Homo sapiens: one gene and its partners. The protein of the gene in region 1 interacts with the protein of each later gene in a pairwise test. Each region holds a gene or a part of one and is shown in the gene's direction. Other genes may lie near its edges. The genes, in order: PKN1, SSX2IP, ZFP90, STMN3, SMYD3, ZNF488 and CEP57L1.

Region 1 (3,500 bases):
AAAAAAAAGAAAAAGATAATAGACATGCCCCTTTCTGCCAGGATTTTCTTTCTTTTTCTTTTTTTTTTTTCTTTTTTTTTTTTTTTGAGATGGAGCTTCACTCTTGTTGCCCAGGCTGGAGTGCAGTGGCGTGATCTCGGCTCACTGCAACCTCTGCCTCCTGGGTTCAAGGGATTCTCCTGCCTCAGCCTCCCGAGTAACTGGGATTACAGGCATGTGCAACCACGCCTGGGTAATTTTTTATTTTTAGTAGACATGGGGTTTCACCATGTTGGTCAGGCTGGTCTCAAACTTCTGACCTCAGGTGATCCACCTGCCTCAGCCTCCGAAAGTGTTGAGATTACAGGCATGAGCCACTGTGCCTGGCCGTTTTTATTTTCTCTTCTCTTCTCTTCTCTCTTTTCGACCGAGTCTTGCTGTGTCACGCAGGCTGGAGCGCAGTAGCACGATCTTGGCTCACTACAACCTCTGCCTCCTGGGTTCAAGTGATTCTCCTTCCTCAGCCTCCCGAGTAGCTGGCATTACAGGCGCGTGCCACCACGCCCAGCTAATTTTTTGTATTTTTAGTAGAGACGGGGTTTCGCTATGATGGCCAGGCTGGTCTTGAACTCCTGGCCTCAAGTGATCGCCTGCCTCAACCTCCTAAAGTGCCGGGATTACAGGCATGAGCAACCTTGTCTGGCTACTGCCAGCATTTTCTGACTGGGCCCTCTCTCCCATTTCAGGTGAAGTCAGCACTGTGCTTAAGCTGGATAACACAGTGGTGGGGCAGACGTCTTGGAAGCCATGTGGCCCCAATGCCTGGGACCAGAGCTTCACTCTGGAGCTGGAAAGGGTGAGCTGCGTTGGAGGACAGCAGGGCCTAGAGGAGGAGGGGTTCCATGCCTCTGGCACCCTGAGTGATGGCCCTCTTCCTCTCCCTCCAGGCACGGGAACTGGAGTTGGCTGTGTTCTGGCGGGACCAGCGGGGCCTGTGTGCCCTCAAATTCCTGAAGTTGGAGGATTTCTTGGACAATGAGAGGCATGAGGTGCAGCTGGACATGGAACCCCAGGGCTGCCTGGTGGCTGAGGTATAGCCCACACCTGACCCTGAGAAAATGCTTCTTCTCCCTCACTGCCCCATTCCCAGTTTCCTAGAAGGGGAAAATATGTTTTAGGTCTGGCTCTTCCAGAAGGGGAAGATAAGTTTTAAGTCAGGCTTTTCTAGAAGAGGAAAATAGATTTTAGATCCAGCTCTTCTAGAAACGGAAGATATGTTTTAACTCTGCCTTTTCTAGAAGGAGAAGATACGTTTTAGGTCAGGCTCTTCCAGAAGGGGAAGAGACGTTTTAGGTCTGCTTTTTTCTAGAAGGGAAAGATATGTTTTAGATCAGGCTCTTCTAGAAAGGGAAGATAGGCTTTTGATCTGCCTGTTCTAGGCTGGGCGTGGTGGCTCATGCCTGTAATCCCAGCACTTCGGAAGGCTGAGGCAGGAGGATCACCTGAGGTCAGGGAGACCAGCCTGGGCAACATGGTAAAACCGCGTCTCAACTAAAAGTACAAAATTAGCTGGGCGTCGTGGCACATGCCTTTAGTCCCAGCTACTTGGGAGGCTGAGACAGGAGAATCGCTTGAACCCAGGAGGCGGAGGCTGCAGTGAGCTGAGATCCCACCACTGCACTCCAGCCTGGGCGACAGAGTGAGACTCTGTCGCCCAGGAGTCTCACAAAAAAAAAAAAGATCTGCTTGTTCTAGAAGGGGAAGATACATTTTAGATCAGGCTCTTTTAGAAGCATAAGATATGTTTTAGATATGGTTTCTCTTAATACAGAAAGATAGTTTTAGATCAGGCTCTTTCAGAAGTGGCAGGTATGTTTTAGACCCGTGTATTCTAGAAGGGGAAGATACATTTTAGATCTGTCTCTGAACCTTGATAGAAAAGTACACCTTGGCCAGGTGTGGTGGCTCACGCCTGTAATCCCAGCACTTTGGGAGGCTGAGGCAGGTGGATCACTTGAGGCCAGGAGTTCCAGACTAGCCTGGCCAACATGGTGAAACCCCATCTCTATTAAAAATACAAAAATTAGCTGGGCATGATAGTGGGTACCTGTAATCCCAGCTACTTGGGAGGCTGAGGCAGGAGAATTGCTTGAACCCAGGAGACAGAGGTTGCAGTGAGCTGAGATCACGCCATTGCACTCCAGCCTGGGCAACAGAGTGAGACTCTTGTCTCAAAAAAAAAAAAAAAAGAAGAAGAAGAAGAAGAAAAGCACTTCTAATTAGCCACATCAGTGATAGGACCTTAGCTGGGATTGGTTTTGTTCTGAGGCAAGATACTTAAAAAAAAAAAAAAAGAAGAAGAAGAAGCTGATTTCCAAATTTAGAAATGTTTAAAGAAAAAAGGAAATAAATTATAAAATTTCTTCCAACCAGGAAAGAGATACAAAACCTGGCAACATATCGTGGTGATTGCTACCAGAGCCACAGTCAAGAGAAAGTGATTCCTTCCACAGCTGTGTGAGGGTGAAGGTCTGAATTGAGGTGGCCTACCCTTGGCACTGTTGACATCTGGGGCCACATCATCCTCTGTGGTGGGGCTGTCCTGCATACTAGAGGATGTAGCACCTCTCCCCACTGCTTACAGGATGTCAGTAGCACCACCTCCCCCTGAGTTTTGACAGCCCAGAGGTCTCCAGACACTGTCAAGTGCTCCCTGGCCGGGAACCCCTGGTCTAAATGACATTTCTAGCTGAGTTCTCATAGTATAAGCCAGGCTCTGTAGCGAGTACTTTGGCGACGTGAACTCATTAATTCTCACAACCAACCAACAAAAGAGGGACTGTTATTACTCAAATTTGACAGAGGAGGAAACTGGGGCACAGAGAAGGGGCACTTGACCCCTCATTTAGCCAAATTATCCTAAAAAACTCTTTTAATCTTCCGCTAACCTATATGTGTACCCCATTTTACATATATATATGATAGATTACCTATATATGTATACACACACATATTATCTATTATTTACCCACCTACGTGTCCATCCATCCATTTTGTCTGTCTATGCATTCATCCATCCATCTTTTTTTTTTTTTTTTTTTTTTGAGATGGAGTCTCGCTGTCTCCCAGGCTGGAGTGCAGTGGTGCGATCTTGGCTCACTGCAACCTCTGCTTCCCGGGTTCATGCCATTCTCCTGCCTCAGCCTCCCGAGTAGCTGGGACTACAGGCACCCGCTACCACGCCCGGATAATTTTTTGTATTTTTAGTAGAGACGGGGTTTCACCCACCGTGTTAGCCAGGATGGTCTCCATCTCCTGACCTCGTGATCTGCCCGCCTTGGCCTCCCAAAGTGCTGGGATTACCGGCGTGAGCCACCGCGCCCGGCCCAGCCATCTTATCAATGCATCCTCTATCCATTGATAGATACACCTATATTATCTGTCTTATCTATGTATCCATCTATATTAGGTATCTATATCATCTATTTATCTAATCCATCTATCCATTTATCTATCTCTAT
Region 2 (3,500 bases), on another chromosome or scaffold:
AAGAGAAGCTGTGCTTCCTTGGAAGAGTTACTGGCAAGTAGCTTTTGAGTATTGGCAGGGGCTAGAATCACCATGAGCCGGATCCTGGGCCATTCCCCTGTCTGCTCCGCCTCAGAGACCCTGACCTCTGCTAGCCCATTGCTGACCTCAACTACTGATAGAGTTCTTCAGACTCAGTTGCTCCCTCATCCTGCTGATCTCCATGTGCGAGCAGTCGAATCAGCCCTTCTTTCTTTTCATCTTTTATCTTTCTTTTTTCCCCAGCAAGATTTTTATTGTTCAAATTAGTGAAGTATATCTCTCTGCCTTCCTGAATATTAATGACAAATTAGAACTACTTTATGTAGATGTGGGTTATTATGACATATATCCCTTTTAGTATTGTTTCCCCATGTTCTTTATCCTGCTTTGATTCTGTGTGATCATATATCAGTAAAGTTTGCTACTTCTTTATGATTTCATGTTTGGCAGAATACAAAGAAAAGTATCTCCCGTTATATAAAAAAGTATATGAGGAAAATAGAATTAACAGTTGCTTTTATTAAATACTTCAGAGATTATTTCACAAGTGCATTTCTTTAAGCAGCCTAGGATTAGAAACAAGTTGATCTAATGTCAAATATCAGTTCTGCCTCTTAGTTGTAATGCTGCTTCTCTAAACCTCGGTTTTCCCACATTGTAATGAGCTGAGGGTTAAATAACGTGAAAACATCCAACACATTAGACAGGTAGTGATATCTCCTTCTCAGACAGCTTCATGACTCTTGTCATTAACTGTATTTGGATTCAAATTCAGGTTTAGAGAGAGCTGAATTTAGGAGTCTCATTTTTTTTCTCAAGACATTTAAATACTGGGCCATATATGCATAAGACACAGCACAGAAATGATTTTGATGTGGCTTCCTCTGGTAATCAAACTGAAGACTACTTGCCTGAGCATCTAAAGCCATTGTAAGGTACTAGCCTTTCCTCTTCATCTCTCTCCGCTTGTAGGTTATTTCCGATGTTGAAGAAGATGCCGGGGAACTAAGCAGAGAGAGTATGTGGGACCTTTCCTGTGAAACTGTGAGAGAGCAGCTTACAAACAGCATCAGAAAACAGTGGAGAATTTTGAAAAGTCATGTAGAAAAGCTTGATAACCAAGGTAACCACTGCTTCTATGCATGTAAAGTGAGTTGTGACATTTGGTAAGGTGTTGATTTTTAGTCACTTAGAAAGCCGCATTATAGGCTCAGAGCTAAAGTACTATACTTCAGTTTGGTGGTTTGAAAGCAAGATTTTGCATACATTTATTTTTTCATTTTATTTTATTTTATTTTACTTTTTGAGACAGAACCTTGCTCGGTCACCCAGGCTAGAGTGTAGTGGTGCCATCTCGGCTCACTGTAACCTCCGCCTCCCAGGTTCAAGTTATTTCTCCTGCCTCAGCCTGCTGAGCAGCTAGGACTATAGGCGCACATCATAGCCAGCTAATTTTTTGGTGTGTTTTTAGTAGAGATGGGGTTTTGCTGTGTTGGCCAGGCTTATCTTGAACTCCTGGCCTCAAGTGATTCACCTGCCTTGGCCTCCCCAGAGTGTCTGGATTACACGTGTGAGCCACTGTGCACAGCCGACATTTTACATACATTTAGATGTGAGGTTTGAACCTCACTGAGAAAAATACACTTTGGTCTCAGAGTGAATGTTTGAAAAGAGGACATCATGGATCCATCTGCTCTGGATGCAGTATACAATCAAATAAAGATAACTGAGTTGGGATAAAAGACTACACATTGGGTGTAGTGTACACTGCTTGGGTGATGGGTGCACCAAAATCTCAGAAATCACCACTAAAGATCTTATTCATGTAACCAAACACCACCTGTTCCCCCCCAAAAAGAGAAAACTGAGTCTCTTTTACTGACTCTCAAAAATCAAGAAATATTTATCGTAGTATAGATAGGAACATTTTGCTTATTTCTAGATGCTTGCAGATTACTATGTTCCTAGTAATTCACTTAAAATTATTTTTAAAATAATAGATGTTTAATGCAAAATATTAATTTGGAAGTATATAAAGTAGAATATCCTGGTCTCTATTCCATACATATAACACTTAACAGTTTGGTGCATATTTTTCTATACTTTCCTCTATGGATTTGAAAGATACTTACTTTTTTTTAAATTTTAAAAATTGAATATTACCTATATTTTTCTTTAGTGTGCTTTTTTCACTTAACTATTATCCTTATACATAGCTCTACATTGATGAATATATTCTTAATATTTTCTGCTTGGTAAAGTTTGAATGCTTTTAAACTAGGAAAATGAAGATTTCTGCTCAGTAAATGAAGCCTATTTAAAGAAAAATTTAAATTGTCAAAATATGAACTCAGTGCCATTGTGTTAAGTATTAGTAAAGAGCAATCAGCAAAATTATTATTACAGCACCAAAATGAATCTACATGAGATTTTGTTCATTTGAGTCAATGCTGTTTATTATCAAATAGCAAGTATGTTTGGACTTCGTATTTGTTGAATTTAATATTTGAGAGCAAGATTTGTGACACTTCATTGATCTTTGAAGCAGTGTCAACAAAAACATGATTTTATTTTTCTCTTCTCTGAATATGGCCATTTTGTCTGTTTTTAATTAGGACATAATCATGAATAAATATGGATTACAAATTGTTGGCAATAGAGCTCTGTTTGTAAGCATATCATTTAGTCTTAAAATTGCACAAATGTGTAATTGTCGTCATGAACTCCTGTAGTTGCTTTGCTTAAACATTTTTTATAATGTTAAAATAATATAAATTTAATTTTGTTATAGCTTATGAAATTTTAAAAAGTCAAAGGACGTAACTACTTTTTAGAAAACCTATAAAATTCTAGAAAGATAAAAGTTCTGAGAGCCCTTGTTTTAAAGATATGTGCAAAACACTGTAAACTAAGTGGTGGCTATAAGACCTATGTCAACTTACTGATTTTGTCTTAGTTTCAAAGGTACACCTGGAAGGTTTTAATGATGAAGATGTAATCTCACGACAAGACCATGAACAAGAAACTGAAAAACTCGAGTTAGAAATTCAGCAGTGTAAAGAAATGATTAAAACTCAGCAACAGCTTTTACAGGTGAATATGAATTACCTTTTAAAGCTGTTCTCCATGAAAAGCCAGAATTGTGCTGAACCTTACCAGATTTGTATTCCTTTATTTCATAAGGCCCTGGTATTTGACAGATTTCTAGTCTGTGTTCCCTGCTAACAGATACATTGTGTACCACTCCTTAAATAGTCCATACTTTGCTAGTTGGGGTAGTAGGTTTCGGGAAATGAGAATTCTCATTTGACTTTTTGATTCTTAATAATTTCTATTCCTGCCCTGAAGTTTGACTGGCCTTCCCTTGCTTTCATTTCAACTCGTTGGAGTGTCGCAAGGTCCCTCAGGAACTTACTATGTTTTAAATTTTAATAGCAGCAGCTCGCTACTGCATATGATGATGATACCACTTCACTATT
Region 3 (3,500 bases), on another chromosome or scaffold:
GGTGACTGAGCGAGACTCCGTCTCAAAAAATAACTGTTTCAAAAATAAGATTCTTTTCCTTACTTTTCCGTGTTGTATTACTTTTGTTAAAGTATATCTTATGGCCGGGTACAGTGGCTCACACCTGTAATCCCAGCACTTTGGGAGGCCGAGACAGGCGAATTGCATGAGCCCAGGAGTTCGAAACCAACCTGGGCCACATAGTGAAACCCCATCTCTACTAAAAATACAAAAATTAGCCAGGTGTGGAGGCACACGCCTGTAATCCCAGCTACTTGGGAGGCTGAGACATGAGAATTGCTTGAGCCCGGGAGGTGGAGGTTGCAGTGAGCTGAGATTGCACCATTGCACTCCAGCCTGGGCGACACAGCAAGACTCTGACTCAAAACAAAGTATATTTTATTAAAGTATGTGAGCATATATAATATTAGAGACTTTTTACCTTTGATATAATCTTTGTCAGTTTTTATAAATTTTGATAAAATACACATAAGACAATCTTAAGTGTACAGTTCAGTGGTATTAAATACATTCATATGTAATGCAGCCATCACCACTACCCATCTTCAAAATTCTTCATCTTGTAAAACTGAAAACTCTACAATCCATTAAACAATAACTTTTCATTCTTTCTTCTTTCAGCCCGTGCAACTACCATTCTGCTTTCTATCTCTATGATTTTAACTACTCTATCTCATATAAGTGGAATCAAACAGTATGTTTTGTTTTGTTTTGTTTTTTATTAAGACGGATTCTTGCTCTGTCACCCAGGCTGGAGTGAGTGGTGCAATCTCGGCTCACTGCATCCTCAGCCTCCTGGGTTCAGGCGGTTCTGTCTCAGCCTCCTGAGAACTGGGACTACAGGCATGCGCCACCACGCCCAGCTAATTTTTGTGTTTTTAGTAGAGCCAGGGATTCATCATGTTGGCCAGGCTGGTCTCGAACTCCAGACCTCAAGTGATCTGCCCACCTCAGCCTCCCAAAGTGCTGGGATTAGAGGCGTGAGCCACCACGTCTGGCCAAAATCACACAGTATATCTTTTTGTGGCTGGCTTATTTCACTTATTATAATGTCTTCAAGATTCATCTAAGTCGTAGCATATATCAGAACTTTCTTTTAAAGGCTGAATACAGTGCTTTAAAATAAAAGCCTTTCTAAGGCTAAATACAATTCCATTTTGCTTATCCATTCATCCATTGATAGACACTTGCTTTGTTTACATGTTTAGCTATTGTGAATAATGCTGCTATGGCACTGAACATGAACATGAGGCATTGAACTATTGAACGTGGGGGTACAGATATCTCTTTGAGACCTGACTTTAAATTCTTTTGGTTATATACCCAGAGAGAAATTGCGGGGTCATACGGTAATTTTTTTCCGGAACCACCATACTGTTTCCATAGCAGCTGTATCTTTTTACATTCTTAACAGTGCACAAAGGGTTCTAATTTATCCACATCCCCCCAACCCTTGTTATTTTCTGTTTTATCTTGATAGTAGCCATCCTAACCAGTGTGAGGTGATATCTCATTGTAGTTTTGATTTGCATTTCTCTAATAATTAGTGTTCTTGAACATCTTTGTGTATCTTCTTTGGAGAAATGTTTATTCAAGTTCCTGGCACATTTTTGAATTGTTTTTTGTTGGATTTTTAGGAGTTCTCTATATATTCTGGGTATTACTTGCTTAATAATCTAGACTTTTTAATAGAAAAAAGTCATTTATGATCCCTCTTCCTTAGGACCTCTGTATTTGTTTTGGTGAATTTTCTTTTCTCCTTATGCATATTTTTCCCCTTAAACATTTTTAATTACAATGTATTTTAAATTTCATATAAATTTTATGAGGATTATTTTTGTTGTTGTTTAAAATCAGTTTTAATGACTATATTATATTGCTTTGTATGAATGTACCAAAATTTATTTAGCCATTTCTCAGAGAACATTTAGGTTGTTTCTGAAATTTTTACTATTATACATAATGCTGGGATAAAATTCCACTTGGTTGTAATACATAAGTTTTTCAAAATACAGTTGATCTCTCTTTTTTTTTTTTTTTTGAGACAGAGTTTTGCTCTTGTTGCCCAGGCTAGAGGGCAATCTCAGCTCACTGCAACCTCTGCCTCCTGGGTTCAAGCGATTCTCCTGCCTCAGTCTTCCAAGTAGCTGGGATTACAGGCGTGTACCACCATGTCTGGCTAGTTTTGATTTTTTAGTAGAGATGGAGTTTCACCATGTCGGTCAGGCTGGTCTCGAACTTCTGACCTCAAGTGATCCACCTGCCTCAGCCTCCCAAAGTGCTGGGATTACAGGTGTGAGCCACCGTGTCCGGCCCAGTTGATCATTTTTTAATATCTGTATTACTAAGGGAAATAGCCACCAGAGAGAAAGCACTCTCTTGGATGGGTTTTGGTGTCATGCTTATCCTTAATTTGTAGAAACATTCAGATTGCTTTTCACCTTTTTCTGTCTTTTGAAAGAATTTACCTATAAAACATTTAGACTCAGGATTTTTATAGACAAGATGTTTTGGCAACAATTTTCTCTATTTCCTCCTCAATTATAAAGGTTTCTGCTTTTTTGTGTAAACATTGGTAGTTTAGAATTTAAAAGTTTTTTGTTAAGATTTTTTGCATTTCTTAACACACTAGTGTGTATATTTCACTGTTCTGTTTATCCTCCTTTTTTTTTTTTTTTTTTTTTTTTTTTTTTATTGAGACGGAGTTTCGCTCTTATTGCCCAGGCTGGAGTGCAATGGCGCAATCTCGGCTCACCGCTACCTCCGCTTCCCAGGTTCAAGCAATTCTCCTGCCTCAGCCTCCTGAGTAGCTGGGATTACAGGCATGCACCTCCACACCCGGCTAATTTTGTATTTTTAGTAGAGATGGGGTTTCTCCATGTTGGTCAGGCTGGTCTCGAACTCCCGACCTCAGGTGATTCGCCCGCCTCGGCCTCCCAAAGTGCTGGGATTACAGGCATGAGCCACTGTGCCCAGCCTTATCCTCCTATCTTTAAGTTCATCTTTTAAAAATTTCTTCTTACTCGATTTATCAGAGGTTTTTCTATTTGGCTGGTGCTTAAGAGGAACCAGCCTTAGATTTGGCTGTTAATGCCATCGTTTTTCTGTTTGCCTCTGTTTTTTATAATCCAAGAATTTAATTCACTAACCCATGTGTTTTTTTTTAATCCTCGAAACAACTCCTCATTTTCCTGCATTGAGAATTACCCAGATTCTGTATCCATTCACTCAGCAGACGTGTTTGGAATGCTTGCTCTATGCCAGGCAGTGGTTCTTAACCAGGGTCATGCTTCAGAACCAGTCAGGAAGTGGTGCCTGCTTCCTCTGGGGTGGTGACAAGGCTTCAGTGAGGAAATGTGGTGAGAGTGCACGTAAATGACTGAGTTTAGTGTTTGCCTAGCAGCGAGTGTTCAAGAAATCTGAGCTGTTGCTCTTTGATAATGAACCACCTGAGGAGCTTTTAAAAGATGCTGGGCAAG
Region 4 (3,500 bases), on another chromosome or scaffold:
AAAATTAGCCGGGTGTGGTGGCATGTGCGTGTAATCCCTGCTACTTGGGAGGCTGAGGCAGGAGAATCGCTAGAACCCAGGAGGCGGAATTGCAGTGAGCAGAGATAAAAAAAAAAAGAAAACTGGTGTGCTGGCATGCACCTGTAGTCCCAGCTGCTAAGATGGCAGGATCCGTCAAGCCCAGAAGTTCAAGGCTGCAGTGAACCGCACAGCTGCACCCTACACTCCAGCATGGGCAACAGAGCACAGTCCTGTTTCTAAAAAATAAAGTAGGCCAGGCACAGTGGCTCACACCTGTAATCCCAGCACTTTGGGAGGTCGAGGCGGGCGGATCACGAGGTCAGGAGATCGAGACTATCCTGGCTAATATAGTGAAACCCCGTCTCTACTAAAAATACAAAAAATTAGCTGGGTGTGGTGGCGGTGCCTGTGGTCCCAGCTACTCGGGAGGCTGAGGCAGGAGAATGGTGTGAACCCAGGAGGCGGAGCTTGCGGTGAGCCGAGATCGCACCACTGCACTGCAGCCTGGGCAACAGTGCAAGACTCCATCTCAAAAAGAAAAAAAGAAAACTTGACAAGTCAGACCAAAGTCCCCTGTGAGGCTCCCCCACCTGGTCCCCCTCCATCTCCCTCCCTGAAGACAATGACCAAGACAGGTAGCTTTGCCTCGCTTCCCGGCTCAAAGTCTCATTCCTTCCCCCAAAGGCTCTCGCACGGGCCTGCCCACCCTGGGATTCCTTTCTGCTCCTCCTTACACCCTCTTGGGCTCTGTGCTGCTCTGTCCAGAAAAGTGTAGGTCACCAGGAAATTTAAGTCAGGACAGACCATTCTCTGCACTGTCACCAGAAGACCCAGCTCACCATGAAAGGCTTGATTACTTCTGCCTTGTCTGTCTTCCTTTCCTTTCCTTTCTTCTTTTCCTCCCTCCCTCCCTCCTTCCTTTCTTCCTCTCTCTCTTTTTCTTTCTGTTTTGAGACGGAGTCTCACACTGTCACCCAGGCTGGAGTGCGATGGCGCGACCTCGGCTCACTGCAACCTCCGCCTCCCAGGTTCAAGCGATTCTCCTGCCTCAGCCTCCCAAGTAGCTAGGATTACAGGTGCCTGCCACCACGCCTGGCTAATTTTTATATTTTTAGTAGAGATCGGGTTTCACCATGTTGGTCAGGCTGGTCTCAAACTCCTGACCTCAGGTGTTCCACCTGCCTTGGCCTCCCAAAGTGCTGGGATTACAGTTAAATGAGCCACTGCACCCAGCCAAAAGGATTATCGAGCACTAGTGAGAAACCGGGCCAGCGTGTCTGCTTAGGAATGAGGTTCGCCCTGAATAGACCAAAAGAGCTAAATTATTTTCACTGTGACAGCAGGCGCCTTCCTCTTCCCCTGACAGGGCACAGGGCCACAGGAGCCCGGCTTGCTTCTGGTTTGGGTTGGGCAGCAGGGACACTGGCTGGTGGGCACTTGATTGACCTGAATGGGCAAGAGGGCTGGCTGTGGTGCTGAACGGACAGCTTCCCTCCCTTGCTCCTTGGTGGCATCAGTGGCCCAAGCCCAGCCCTAGATAGACAGAGAGCATGTGCCTGGAGAGGGCCTGGTTTCATCTCAAGGTGACCACACAATCATTGGGAAGGAAAAAGGAGGGTCTGAGGGCTTCATCCAGGTTTACAGCCCAAGAAAGTCCTGCCCACAGAGGGTTTGCATCTGTGCTGGTCCCGTCATGAGTAAATCTTGCCTGCTTGAGCTGGCGAGGAGTGGGAAGGAGGAGGAGGGGAGAGAGAAGTAGCGGGACAGAGGGAGGTAAGAGTCAGAAAGACACACAGTGACAAGGAATCACAGAAAGATGCACTCAGGGAGAAAGACAGAGTCAGGGGCTACCCCCAGAGACACAGAAAGATACAATGACAGTGACAGAGTCAGACACACAGAAGGTAAACAGAGACCCAGACAGGCAGGGGTAGCCACTTTGTCAGTCTGGGCAGGTACCTGAGACTGAGTGGTTTATAGACGACAGGAACTTATTTCCCATCGCTCTGGAGGCCAGAAAGTCCAGGATCAAGGTGCCGGCAGAGTCGGTGCCTGGAGAGGTCTCGCCTCCTGGTACATAGACGGGTGGCGTCTTCTGGCTGTGTCCTCACATGATGGAAGGTGAGGGAGTTCTCTGAAGCCCCACTCTGGGGCCACTTAGGAGGGCTCTATCCTCATGGCCTAATTCCCTCCGAATGCCTCACCTCCGCACACCGGCACCTTGGGGTTACGATTTCAACACATGAGTTTTGGGTAATGGAAACATTCAGACCACAGCAGGCAGGAGAAGGATGGAGAAACAAGTCAGTGTGGAAGATGAGACAGACATTAATGCCGAGAGAGAGGAAAAGCGGGGAGAGGCAGAGGGCGAGAGAGACAGAAGGCAGGGGACACACCACGGAGACAGTGCCGACGTCTGGAAGCGAGAGAGCTGGAGAGACGAAGGGGCCGGCGGTGTGGAGACACACAAGAGAGCGTGCTGGGCAGCTCCGTGTCTCACAGAGACATGATAGAGGCAGCCATGGGGAGGGAAAACGGGGGCCCAGGTGGGCAGGCCCCAGTGGTGCTTGCTCAGCCCAGCCTTGTGCCCACAGCCTACAAGGAGAAGATGAAGGAGCTGTCGGTGCTGTCGCTCATCTGCTCCTGCTTCTACACACAGCCGCACCCCAATACCGTCTACCAGTACGGGGGTGAGTGCCTGGCTGCCGCCTGCCCTTCCCTGCGGTGCCTGCCCACCTCACCTTTTCCCCCGGCCTCCGGCAGTCTCTCTGAACTCCCGTCCTGGCTGCCTCTGGAGAGGGAGGTTCTAGGGGGAAGGGGCCCATCCTGGGGGCTGAAGCCTGGGATTCCTGCGGGAGCAGCCACCCCCTCTCGCCCAGCCCTGGGGTTGGATGTGTGCTGGGAGCATCCCGCTCAGCCCACGCCATGCCCTGGCCGGGCCTCTGAAGCTCTACTCTGGTCTTGCCCTGCAGACATGGAGGTGAAGCAGCTGGACAAGCGGGCCTCAGGCCAGAGCTTCGAGGTCATCCTCAAGTCCCCTTCTGACCTGTCCCCAGAGAGCCCTATGCTCTCCTCCCCACCCAAGAAGAAGGACACCTCCCTGGAGGAGCTGCAAAAGCGGCTGGAGGCAGCCGAGGAGCGGAGGAAGGCAAGGAGTCCTCCATCCCCCACCCCCCAGGAGTTTCAACGGAGGCGGCCCACGGGGACAGGGCCTGCAAGAAGCAGGGTGCTCCCGGACAGGCTTGGTCAGTGCCTTGGCCTGGAGCAGGAGGGGCTGTGGCTCCCTGGGCCTCTTTCTGAGAGATAAGAATGGGATGGGGAGAGGCCGGGTGTGGTGGCTCACGCCTGTAATCCCAGAACTTTGGGAAGCTGAGGCAGGCAGATCACTTGAGGTTGGAAGTTCAAGATCAGCCTGGCCAACATGGTGAAACCCCATCTGTACTAAAAATACAAAATTAGCCAGGTGTGGTGGTGCACAC
Region 5 (3,500 bases), on another chromosome or scaffold:
TTCTTCTGCCTCATCCTCCCTTTCGACACTCAGGCTGCCCTGCTCGGGCCACTCTTAAGCACAGAAACTTTACATGGGTCCACCACATCCATAAAGAAGACCACACACCTACACGGGTGTCTGTTCTGCACGTATTTTGCAACCTTCTCTTCCCCACATCTACCAGGGCCTCTTTGAGGCACTAACTTACACCTTAAGTAGCTGGCAGTTTGACTGACTTTAAACAAAGAGGCCTTTCTTGTAAGTGAGGCCAAGTCCTCCACCAGAATACAGTCCATTATGTTTGGGAAACGTTTGGTTATATTTACATGGTGTTTGGCAGGTCACAATCTCTTTAAGTGTGTGCTGTGTTCTTATGCTGGGTGACAAATTTCCAAGCCTCCCTTGGTTTCTCTTCCCTGGCGTGTGTTGAGTTGCTTTTTGGTGGTATTTCAAGAAATCCAATCTGCATTGATCCACTTCACATGAGTGAGGTACGAATCATTTGCTTTTAAAGCTGTAGTTGAGGAAAAGGCTATAAATAAACCAGAACCAACAAAGTTGAGAGAAATGGGCAGGTTAGATGTTGTCATACTTTGCCTTTTTCCCCTTTAGCTCAGGCAGAGGTAAAAATAAGGAATGTATGCAAATAGGTCAGGTACCCTGCAACCCTGTTAGCAATTTTGGAACAAAGGCAGGAATGGAGAAGTTGGCAGTGGTTTTCACCTCTCACATGTGCATGAGGGAATTCACACTGAGTGCTCTCAGCCCCCCGCATCGGCTCCCTGCAGACGCAGGAGGTGGGCCTTTTGCTCACCTTTAGCCAAGGACACAGACAGTTAGCTAGGCATGAGTTACCAAGGGATGATTGCATTGCCATCTGCTGTAACAGTTTTACAATGTTAATATATTGTTTGCAACAACTAGATGGAGGTCAAGTCTTTCTTGATGATTTTGTCACTCCTGACCTTGGCTAAATTTTAATTGCTGACCTTAGAGGAGAAAGTGCTGCTATTCCATTTTAATCCAAATTATGGCCTTCAGCTCCCTTCTTGCTACTCTCATTTATTTTTACTCAATAGATTTTACTCAGTTTTTATGACGCAACTCAACATTACATCCTTCATGTTTCATAAAACAAGTTAGAAATCACATACAACAAAATGTATAATGTTTAGTATTAGCCCATAGTATGTCTTCTGATAGTATCGGCATATATATGTGACTAATATGGAAACTCATCTGTCCCTTAGCATTGTAAACAGGAAGTAGAATGAAGATAATTTTAAAATACTTCATAAATTTTATTTAAAAGTTTAACTTAGTCTAATGTTAATTCGCCAATTAGTAGTTCAGAACTTGGGATGCATTTTCCTATTAAAGATGGTTACAGATTATGGTGATGTCTCCAGACTAACCCATGAAAGTCTACTCAGCCTTTGATAGCACCACTGTATGGGCTATAAATTCCCCCCCCAGCCCCTAAAAACGGAGAGAAAAATACAAAATTGAGCACATTGTTTTAAAATTTTTGTGCGTCGAATATTAATTAAATTTGACTTTTCTTTCGGAACTAGAGAGTGATAAGGAGATATAGAGGGTGTTTCCGGCTTTGAAGAGGACTTTCAGGACATTCGCCCGTTCTGTTCATTTCTGTTGCGAGATTAACATATGCTTGTAGGGAAGGACAATTTAAGAGGACAGAAAGGTAAAAATCAGCCTCATCTTCAAACTGTTGTCCCACTCCTTAAAGATAAACATGGCTAAAAGTTTCCTTCTGGAAATGTTCCGTGTGAGAGTGGCCGGTCTGAATATATTCCAGAGCCAGATAGACCTCCGTCTTAGCATGGTGTCAGAGGATTGAAAGTAAACAGTAATCCTAACCTTCGCCAGAAAACATGAACAATGGTTCCATCATAATACACAGAATGTTTTTTTAAAGCCCTGCTTCCCCCATTCCTTTTATTCTGCTTTCCCAGTTACTCTCAACTCTCTTCCCTTCAGAACTGTTCACGTGGGCTCTTCCACTTTCTCCTGCACTTCTGCGTTTTTCCTGCTTGTCTTGCTGGGGGAAAGACTCATTTCCAATAGGTCTTTTAAATATGCCTGCTGAGGTGGTGTATGGAGGAGTGGGGATTAGAGAAAAGGAAGGGAAGCCAAGCCAAAGGTCCTCCTTAGTGTGCGGGAAAAAGAGAGAGAGAGAGAGAAAAGGATAACTCCCTAGCCCATGTTCTGTAACTTTTTTCACTTTACAAGAGAGTGTAGACATCTGTCTAGATTAGCTCCAGATTAGCTACCTTATTCTTTTTAACAGATACATAGTATTTCATCTCATGGATATGCCATAATTTTTAGATCAATCTCTGTCGTTTCCATTTATGTGTACTGTGTCAAACAGTGCCATGATTAATTGAATCCATAGGGTAAATCCACATGAGAAATTCCTAAGTGGTAACTTGGTACATCAAAAGTTAGGTCCCCCTGCTCTTAAAGTGAAAGTTATATTTATTTTAAATTTGGATAACCATTTCCAAATTGTACCTCCCCCACCACACACACTAAAATGTCACTCTTTCCTCAAGAAAATATGAGAAGAGATGACGTTGACTTCCGTTGTTTCTGATCTAAAGCCATTTCAAAACGTATTAGGGCCTTCATCTCTTCTTTCATCAAAGCCCACATTATAGGGTAAGATTTGTTGATATTAATTTTGTTGTCCATAAATAGTATTTTTGTGCTGGTGGGAATGACACTTTTGTGACGTACCTGGGAAAAAGGCAGAAGAACAAGAATGATGAAGAGACTTAAGTTGTGATCAGAGAAAGAGGCAAGGGAGGTGGGCTATGAAATCTCCATCAAGGAGAAGAAAGCTGATAAGAGTGAGATTTCAGCTCAGATAGTTTTCTGTGCTTTGTTGTCAGAAAAAATGGGGGCAGGTGGAGAGAGTGGAAGTATAATGCAGCTGGTAGTTTGTGTACCTGCCATGGTTACAAATCAGGGGTTTGTAACTGAGAGATTGTCAGTTAATTACATAGCAGCCCCATTCGTTTTTAATTTTGCGGGGGATTTTTTTTTTCTCCTTTTTTTGAGAAGGTTTGGAAGATAGGTTGATAAACTATGAGATTTCCTCATAACAGTACCTTCTACTGTTTTCAAGCAGGCTTTTCTGAAGAACTCCAGTTGTTCTTTCATGGGTTTTTGTCAGTGTGACATTCTGGTACAGGAGTCTGCAGAGCTTGCCGGGTACATGTTATAGTGGGAAGACCTGAGCGCACGTTTGGTGCAGCCACGCGCCCAGCGCTTGCTTTGGGCCTGCCTTCCTGACCCCGCATCCCAGGTGCGTATTACAGTGGGAGGACCTGAGCGCGCGTTCGATGCCGTCACATACCCAGCGCTTGCTTTGGGTCTGCCTCTCCCAATCCCGCATCTCTCCTTGTTGCTCAGATGTTGTTAGCTTGCTCTCTGAGGACGCTTGTGTCATTGTCTCTGACAACGAAGCTCATTCCTAGAGGGCAGGCTGG
Region 6 (3,500 bases), on another chromosome or scaffold:
TGTGTTTTAACTGAAGAGAAAAGCAGATGCAGCAAAGCACTGCTTGGGGGGAGCGGGTGGGGGTACATGGTGTCTCTGAATAAGATCTGGTGCCTGACCTGCAGCTCAGAACAGCTTGAGGCTGGCCAGTTGGCTTGGGTTAGGGAGTGACTTCAGACATCCCAGGAAAAAGAGGTTATCCAGATGTTTGCCAAGAGTTCTTTCTTCTGTAGGTGGAGCAGGAAGGAGAAAAATGCCCAGGCTGTTTGGTCATTTATTAAACACTGTTATGCACTGGTCCCTGAGAGCTCAGGAGTAATGGGAAGGCTGCCATGGAGTGGACTCTGTCCCTTTGCACTCAGTGCGATAAGAAGTGATACCCCTAATGTTTACTGAGCCAGGTTCCTTAGCACTTTCTCTATATTAATCCTTCTAATCTTTCCCACAACCCAGTGAAGAAAACACCAAGGTGACCCTCTTTATAGATCAGAAAACAGGCCTGGAGGGGACCCACGCCTTGCCCAAGGTCACAGGTTGGATACAGCAGAGCTGGCCTCCAACCGTGGAGCCCGTGCACTTAACATCTATTTGGATGGAAGGCTCGAAGGTTACCTGAGACAACCTGGTCAAGGTGATAATGTGGGAGAATGTGGCCAGTGGTTCCCAGATGAGTGAATGATCAGTGTGCAGTCACCAGAGGATGGGTGATAAACCGAGAACCACAAGCTCTTAACACTGTGGGGTGGGCGAGGCTTCATCTCCCAGGATGCAGCACTTGCTGAGTTGGGCAACAGGGGACCCTGGTTGATGGCCCAGGTTGGTTGGAAGCCTTTGGGAGATGTGCTCTGTGTTGGTGGGGAAGGCCAGGCATGGTTAGATCCCCTGTAGACTTGGGGAGCTCAGTTTCAGAAAGTTTCAAAGATCATCACTTGATTTCTGTGATTCACGTGATCTGAGGGCTCTGAAAGTGGTGGGTGAGTCCTGGAATTAAATCTGTTTTTTTCAAGTAGGAAAGACATGGGGTGGCAATGAGAGACATCTGTGTGGCTCAGAAAGATGTCTTGCTGAGGTCAGAGGGACAAGAGCCAAGGAGAACAAGAGGAGCCCTTCCCAGGACACTCACAATGACAGAGTGACGAGGGCCAGTAAAGAGTGTCAGGGGGTGAGAGCCCGGGTGTGAACTGAACCTACTGAGGAGAGCTGACGACCACAAAGCATCTTTTCATATCATGTTCGGAGCAAGGAGAACAAGGGCTTCATAGATCCATCGCCGTCTAGGGCAGCTGGTGTCTGTGAAGGGGAGGAAGGCACAGCTCCACTGTGCCCACAGCGGTCTGGACAGAGGAGGATCTGCAGGTGCAAAGGGCGCAGGCAGGTTCCCGGAGGAAAGCAGGAGCCACGTAGCGTGGGCTGCAGTGTGTGTGCTCAGGGCTCTGACCAAGAGAATGCCCTGGCCAGGGTATAGCATGACCTGGAATGAGATACCCCCATCTGAGGTGCTGTCTGAGAGGTGTTGGAAATGAAGCCCGGAGGTGGAAGAGACTCAAATCTGATGTTGGCCCTGGGAAAGATCCTAGACTAAGAAGAAGGCTGTGAGTCTGTGGGCAAAGGAGAGACGTGCATGAGGAGCTGGCGGGGGCTCCCTGGGGACAAGTCATGCCAGCCTCACGTCATTTTCCACCTTGCAGGTCTTCGGTCTGGCCCTTGTTCTGTTGGGGTTCTGGAGGACGTGCTGTGCCCTGGCCTTACTGACCTTACTCCATGCAGTGCTGATGCATGCGACAGCGGTGACCCTCCAGGGTCCCAGGTGGGATGAAAGGTCCCCAGCTAGTTCCTAGTTTCATCTCCTCATTTTCTCCATCCTCCTGCTCCTTCTTATTAAGATCTGGATGTTAACATTGATGGAGTGTGAAGCTGGGTGGGATATTTAATTCAGCAGTTGGCGGTGTCAGGATCCACAGTGGTCTCTGAAAGCTGAGATGCTGCCCTGAGTTTATCGGGATGGCATTTGGCAGATTGGAGATAAGTGCATCTGAATTGAGACACATAGCTTCCCTCATATGGTTTTTATGAAAATGAAATGAACAAGGTGCCTTATTTCATTTGTTAATACTATTGTTTGTCATGTAGATACTTACGTAGCCGATAAATGGTAACTTCTATTCTGATACCCTGAAGCATCCTGATAGCAAATGTTCCATCCTGCTGTAAAGGAGAACTGGTTTCTTCCAATTAGTCATACATGAGTAGGTCTGGGATGGCCTGGAGAGACAGCTTAGCCAGAGCGCATTTTACAGATGGAAACCTGAGGCTCAGAGAGGTTGAGTGCTTTGCTCGGGAACACAGAGAGGAGTGATGTTTCTGCCTCTGCCTCTTTGGGAGACACTGGCCGACATTCACCTCTGACGTCAGGCACCCCCTCTGAGGAATCCACTCAAAAAGGGCATCAGGAGTGGTGTGGAGCCTGCTGCACCACGTGGTTTGCGTCCTCTTCATGAAGTCACACGGGGTGGTCTGCAGGGCAAGGCGGGGTGGCGATGTTCCACAGGAGCTAGTCAAAAGCTTGTGACAAAAGGGAACGTGAGGTTTTATGTTCACTTTTCTTGCTTTCTCTCTGATTTATCCCATGCTTTCACTCCATGAGAGGGTTGGGCTCTCTGTCTCATCTCCTTGAGAGCTCCTGCAGGAAGTGGCTGGACGCAGGTACATCCTTTCATGGCTGGGCGGGAAGCAGGGAGAGGAAGAAGCTGATTTGGCCCAGGCTATATTTATGCATAGCAAGCCATGGAGGCTCTCATCCACTCCTAGATTCTCCCTGAGCCCTGGGATAAATATTTTCTAAGGATGAGAATTCTGGAATGCTGAGTGGAGTCTGGTTCTGCCAGTACCTCTCACCAGTGGAGGGGGCACTTGAAGAGCTTGAGTTCTAGTTTCCAGAACTTGAGGGTGGGGCTGGTGAGAGCGGGTAGGGATGAAGGCATCCCAGCAGGGCTGATACCACCTCCCCATGGGTGCCACCTTTACATGTGGTCAGTGCATGTCTTCCCTTCCACACCGTGGGCACTTCCAGGGTGAGGCTGAAAGCTGGTCCATCCATGGAGGTCCAGTTTGGCACAGGCAGGCAGTTCGCGAAGCTCTGCCAGGGGAGCAGAGAAGCGAGTGGATCCATGTGTGGGGAGAACCAAGAGTGAGCACTTCTGGCGAGTGGAGATGAGGTTACACATGCTCTCTCTAGGGGCAGGGCCAGGTGGTGGGGTGGCAGCCCCTTAGTGTGGGGGTGGGGGCCAGGCACAGCCAGACCCATCCTGCCAAGCCTGCATGTGCATTGCTCCAACTTTTGTCCTTCTGTGCACCTATGCCTACAGATCCCCTGTCCCCAGGTGCCTGAAGTGGCCTGGCACTCCTGAGGGTCAGGAGAAAAAATGAGTATGGCAACCAGCAAGGAAGGAAAACTGCCCTCAACCAGGGTGCAAACACAGTCGAATTAAGTCAGAGCTGGCAGGCAGAAGCCCTGTGTGCTC
Region 7 (3,500 bases), on another chromosome or scaffold:
TGGTGGTATCAGTGTTTTGGACTTTAGCTGTTCTAATAGGTATGTAATGGTATCTCATTATTGTTTTAATTGGTGATTCCCCAATGACATATGTTGAGCATCTTTTCATACGCCTATTTGCTGCCTGTGTATCATGTTTGGTGAGGTGTCTTTTCAGATCTTTTGTCCATTTTTAAATTATTATTACTGTTGAGTGTTTTTGTTTTTTAGAGGCAGGGTCTCCCTAGGTCACCCAGGTTGGAGTGCAGTGTTGCTTTCATAGATCACTGTAACCTCAAACCCCTTGGCTCAAGCAGTCCTGCCTCAGCCTCCGAAGTAGCTAGAACTACAGGCATGCACCTCCACGCTCAGCTTACTATTGAGTTTTAAGAGTGCTTTGTATATTTTGGACACACAAGTCCTATATCAGACCTGCATTTTGTAAATATTTTCTCCAAGTCTGTGGCTTGTCTGTTCATTCTTTAATAGTGTCTTTTGCAAAGCAGAAATTTTTAATTTTAGTGAAGTCCAGCTTTCATGTATCATGCTTTTCGTGTTGTAGCTAAAAAGTCATTGCCATACCCAGGGTCATGTAGATTTTCTCCTGTCTTCCAGAACTTTTACAGCTTTGTGTTTTGCATATAGGTTTATGATCCATTTTTTAGTTTTTTTTTTGTAAAAGGTATAAGGTCTGTGCCTAGATTTATGTTTTTATTAAAAAGTTTCTGCTGGATCTGAAATTATTATTTTGATCAATAATATTAAAAGGTGAAAAACTTTTTTTTAAAGACCATTATACTGAATCTGTACAACTATATTGGTGCCATTCTTCAAAACTGTTCCTTGAGAGAGAGACCTGAAGTCAGCCTAAAGATGAGGCCAGGGAGAACTTTATCTGGAATGTATCAGGAAACCGGACTAACAGTTCCATTTTAGTTATCTGTTGTCAGCATGTGCAGTTGGCTGAGTGCTGTAAGTGAAAATTGTTAGGAAGACTTTCTACAATTAAGAATATTATTCTCCAATTGAATTACCTTGTTACTTGTCTACATTGCTGGTTTTTGTTTTTGTTTTTTTGCTACTTTTTTGCCTAGTCTTACAAGGTTGCAAAAATCAACCTGTGATTTTTCCACAATAGTTTGACCCTTCTCTACAATGAAACACTGAAGCCATGTAAACTTAAAATATCTCTTTCTATGATAACTGACTTCAACTTAAGTTTTTAAAGGAAATTATACTAATTATTTACTGTATAGTAGCATAAGCAGTTTTGCCTCTAAATGCTTCCTTAGTTTTTCTTTTGGCTTGTTGAAAAATGTCTTGTCAACCAAGTACTATATGTGTACTTTTATGTGTGGGGTATATGTGTATTGCCCAAATGAATCATAAAGGCTCTTAATTTGAATCTGTATATTTTATTTTTAAGTTTTCCTTAACAAGGTCGATTTGAATTCCTTAACAAGATTGATTTGAATGATATTCTTTTCAGCCCTTCAAAAACATATTTTCTGAAACACTGTCATACATACTATTCTCAGAATACCATGCCCCTTTTTTCTATGTTATTTTGGTTCCATCTTTCAGGAATAAATGAGTAAACCACTTAAATCAAGTTTACTCTTCAGTATTTTCTCCAGTTTTTCTGTTTTTGGTGTCTCCAAATTTACTATAGTATGCTTTGAATGACTAAATCTCTAGTATTTCTGACATATATTAATGGATAGATTTTTAAAAACCAATAATTGTTGAATCTATTTTCATTTTGCTCTTCTTGAAAGATTTGTGAGCGAGCTCTAGCAATATACGCAACATACAATATGAATTTTATAAACCAGTCTCACTACTGATTTTATTCTTATTTTTCTACTTATTTTCCTTATCCACATTTTACATGAATATATACATATATAGGGGTAAGATATTAAAATTATATGTCATTTTTAAAAGCATTACATATTTCAAACAAAAAATAAGAGTAACAAAATAAATACCCTTTTAAACTACCCCTTGGAATGAACAAATGTTAACATTTTACCTAGTTTGCTTTAGTTTTTGTTTTTTTTTTTTTCAATGAAATGAAATATCACATAGGTTGTGAAAGTGCTCTTGGCACAGTCATATATTGTCTTTGTCTTTTAAAAAAATGTTACATAGAAGATATCTTACTATCTGTAACTTACTTTCTGTTTTACTCAACAATATATTTTCAGAGCTTATCTGTGTTGCTAAATGTAGATCTTGTTTTCAAATTTTAGCTGGTGTATAGTGTTTCATTGTATGAATATGATACAACTTATTTATCCAGTCCCTATTAATGTATATTTATTTAAAAAAAAAATTTTTTTCTGTTGCAATCAGTGCAGCAGTGAACATCATTATACATATGTCCAGATATGTGCCATTTTCTCTAGGGTTCACTCATAAATTCGGAGAAGTGGAATTGCTGAGTTATAGGATATACACAGGATCACATTTTTCAAGTTATGTTTTGTTTTACCAGTTTACACTCCCACTGGCAGTTCATGGGAATTTTCATTTCCCCACATCCTTGACAAAACTTAATATTGATAGGCGTGTTTTTTTGTTTGTTTTTTGTTTGTTTGTTTTGTTTTGTGAGACAGAATCCCACTCTGTTGCCCAGACCAGAGTGCAGTGGCACAATCACAGCCCACTGCAAGCCTCAACCTCCCGGGCTCAAACGATCCTCCCACCTCTGCCCTACAAGTAGCTGGGAACACATGTGTGTGCCACCACACCCAGCTAATTAAAAAATTTTTTTTTTGTAGAGACAGGGTCTCACAGTATTGCCCAGGCTGATCTTGAACTCCTGGGCTCAAGAAGTCCTCCCACCTCAGCCTCCCAAAGTGCTAGGATTACAGACATGAGCCACTGCACTGGGTCCTGATAGGCTTCTTTTAAAATTTTTTTCAATCTAATGGGTGTAAAATAATTTCTGTATTGTTTAAATTTGCATTTTCCTGATCAATGAAGTAGAACGTTTTTGTCCTTTTAGCTATTCGTGTTTTCTTGTCTTTTAACTTCCATTGTACCTTTTGTTCCTTTGTTAATTGACCTTTGTGTTTTTCTTAATAATTTATAGGATAGAACTTGTTTCTGTATTTCAGATACTAATCTTTTATGTTATATATGTTTCTTTTTTAAAGATATCATCAATGATGTTTTTTGTTATACAGACATTTTAATTTTTATATAGTTTTATCATTTTTTCTTTTTTATTTGTAAATTGTCTTGTTTTAAGAAATCTCTTCTTACCCAAAGTCTGAAACGTACTCTATATTTTCTTCTAAAACAAAGGTTTGTTGTTCACGTATAGATGTTCAGTCTAGCTAGAATTTATTTTTGTGTTTGGCATGGAGTAGAGATATATGTTTATATTTTACCGTGTGGATAGCACTGTATAGTGAATATTGGCATAGTGAATATTGAATAGCCAATCCTTTCTCCATGTAAATGCCCTCTTTTTCATATACCAAATTCCCACATATGTAAAAGTTTATTTA

Evidence for each region.
Region 2: the proteins of PKN1 (region 1) and SSX2IP interact in binary tests that used the Homo sapiens proteins (3 or more experiments, as listed by UniProt).
Region 3: the proteins of PKN1 (region 1) and ZFP90 interact in binary tests that used the Homo sapiens proteins (3 or more experiments, as listed by UniProt).
Region 4: the proteins of PKN1 (region 1) and STMN3 interact in binary tests that used the Homo sapiens proteins (3 or more experiments, as listed by UniProt).
Region 5: the proteins of PKN1 (region 1) and SMYD3 interact in binary tests that used the Homo sapiens proteins (3 or more experiments, as listed by UniProt).
Region 6: the proteins of PKN1 (region 1) and ZNF488 interact in binary tests that used the Homo sapiens proteins (3 or more experiments, as listed by UniProt).
Region 7: the proteins of PKN1 (region 1) and CEP57L1 interact in binary tests that used the Homo sapiens proteins (3 or more experiments, as listed by UniProt).

Annotation. Positions count from the first base shown.
Region 1 is NC_000019.10:14,457,306-14,460,805, forward strand, and holds part of PKN1 (serine/threonine-protein kinase N1), read left to right. Parts: intron 1-725; coding exon 726-835; intron 836-926; coding exon 927-1,070; intron 1,071-3,500. UniProt on the Homo sapiens protein: PKC-related serine/threonine-protein kinase involved in various processes such as regulation of the intermediate filaments of the actin cytoskeleton, cell migration, tumor cell invasion and transcription regulation.
Region 2 is NC_000001.11:84,655,962-84,659,461, reverse strand, and holds part of SSX2IP (afadin- and alpha-actinin-binding protein), read left to right. Parts: intron 1-993; coding exon 994-1,144; intron 1,145-2,977; coding exon 2,978-3,114; intron 3,115-3,456; coding exon 3,457-3,500. UniProt on the Homo sapiens protein: Belongs to an adhesion system, which plays a role in the organization of homotypic, interneuronal and heterotypic cell-cell adherens junctions (AJs).
Region 3 is NC_000016.10:68,545,791-68,549,290, forward strand, and holds part of ZFP90 (zinc finger protein 90 homolog), read left to right. Parts: intron 1-3,500.
Region 4 is NC_000020.11:63,643,425-63,646,924, reverse strand, and holds part of STMN3 (stathmin-3), read left to right. Parts: intron 1-2,615; coding exon 2,616-2,711; intron 2,712-2,993; coding exon 2,994-3,169; exon of another isoform or gene 3,170-3,266; intron 3,267-3,500. UniProt on the Homo sapiens protein: Exhibits microtubule-destabilizing activity, which is antagonized by STAT3.
Region 5 is NC_000001.11:245,853,280-245,856,779, reverse strand, and holds part of SMYD3 (histone-lysine N-methyltransferase SMYD3), read left to right. Parts: intron 1-3,500. UniProt on the Homo sapiens protein: Histone methyltransferase. Specifically methylates 'Lys-4' of histone H3, inducing di- and tri-methylation, but not monomethylation. Also methylates 'Lys-5' of histone H4.
Region 6 is NC_000010.11:47,377,794-47,381,293, reverse strand, and holds part of ZNF488 (zinc finger protein 488), read left to right. Parts: intron 1-432; exon of another isoform or gene 433-1,786; intron 1,787-3,500. UniProt on the Homo sapiens protein: Transcriptional repressor. Plays a role in oligodendrocyte differentiation, together with OLIG2. Mediates Notch signaling-activated formation of oligodendrocyte precursors.
Region 7 is NC_000006.12:109,102,007-109,105,506, forward strand, and holds part of CEP57L1 (centrosomal protein CEP57L1), read left to right. Parts: intron 1-3,500. UniProt on the Homo sapiens protein: Centrosomal protein which may be required for microtubule attachment to centrosomes.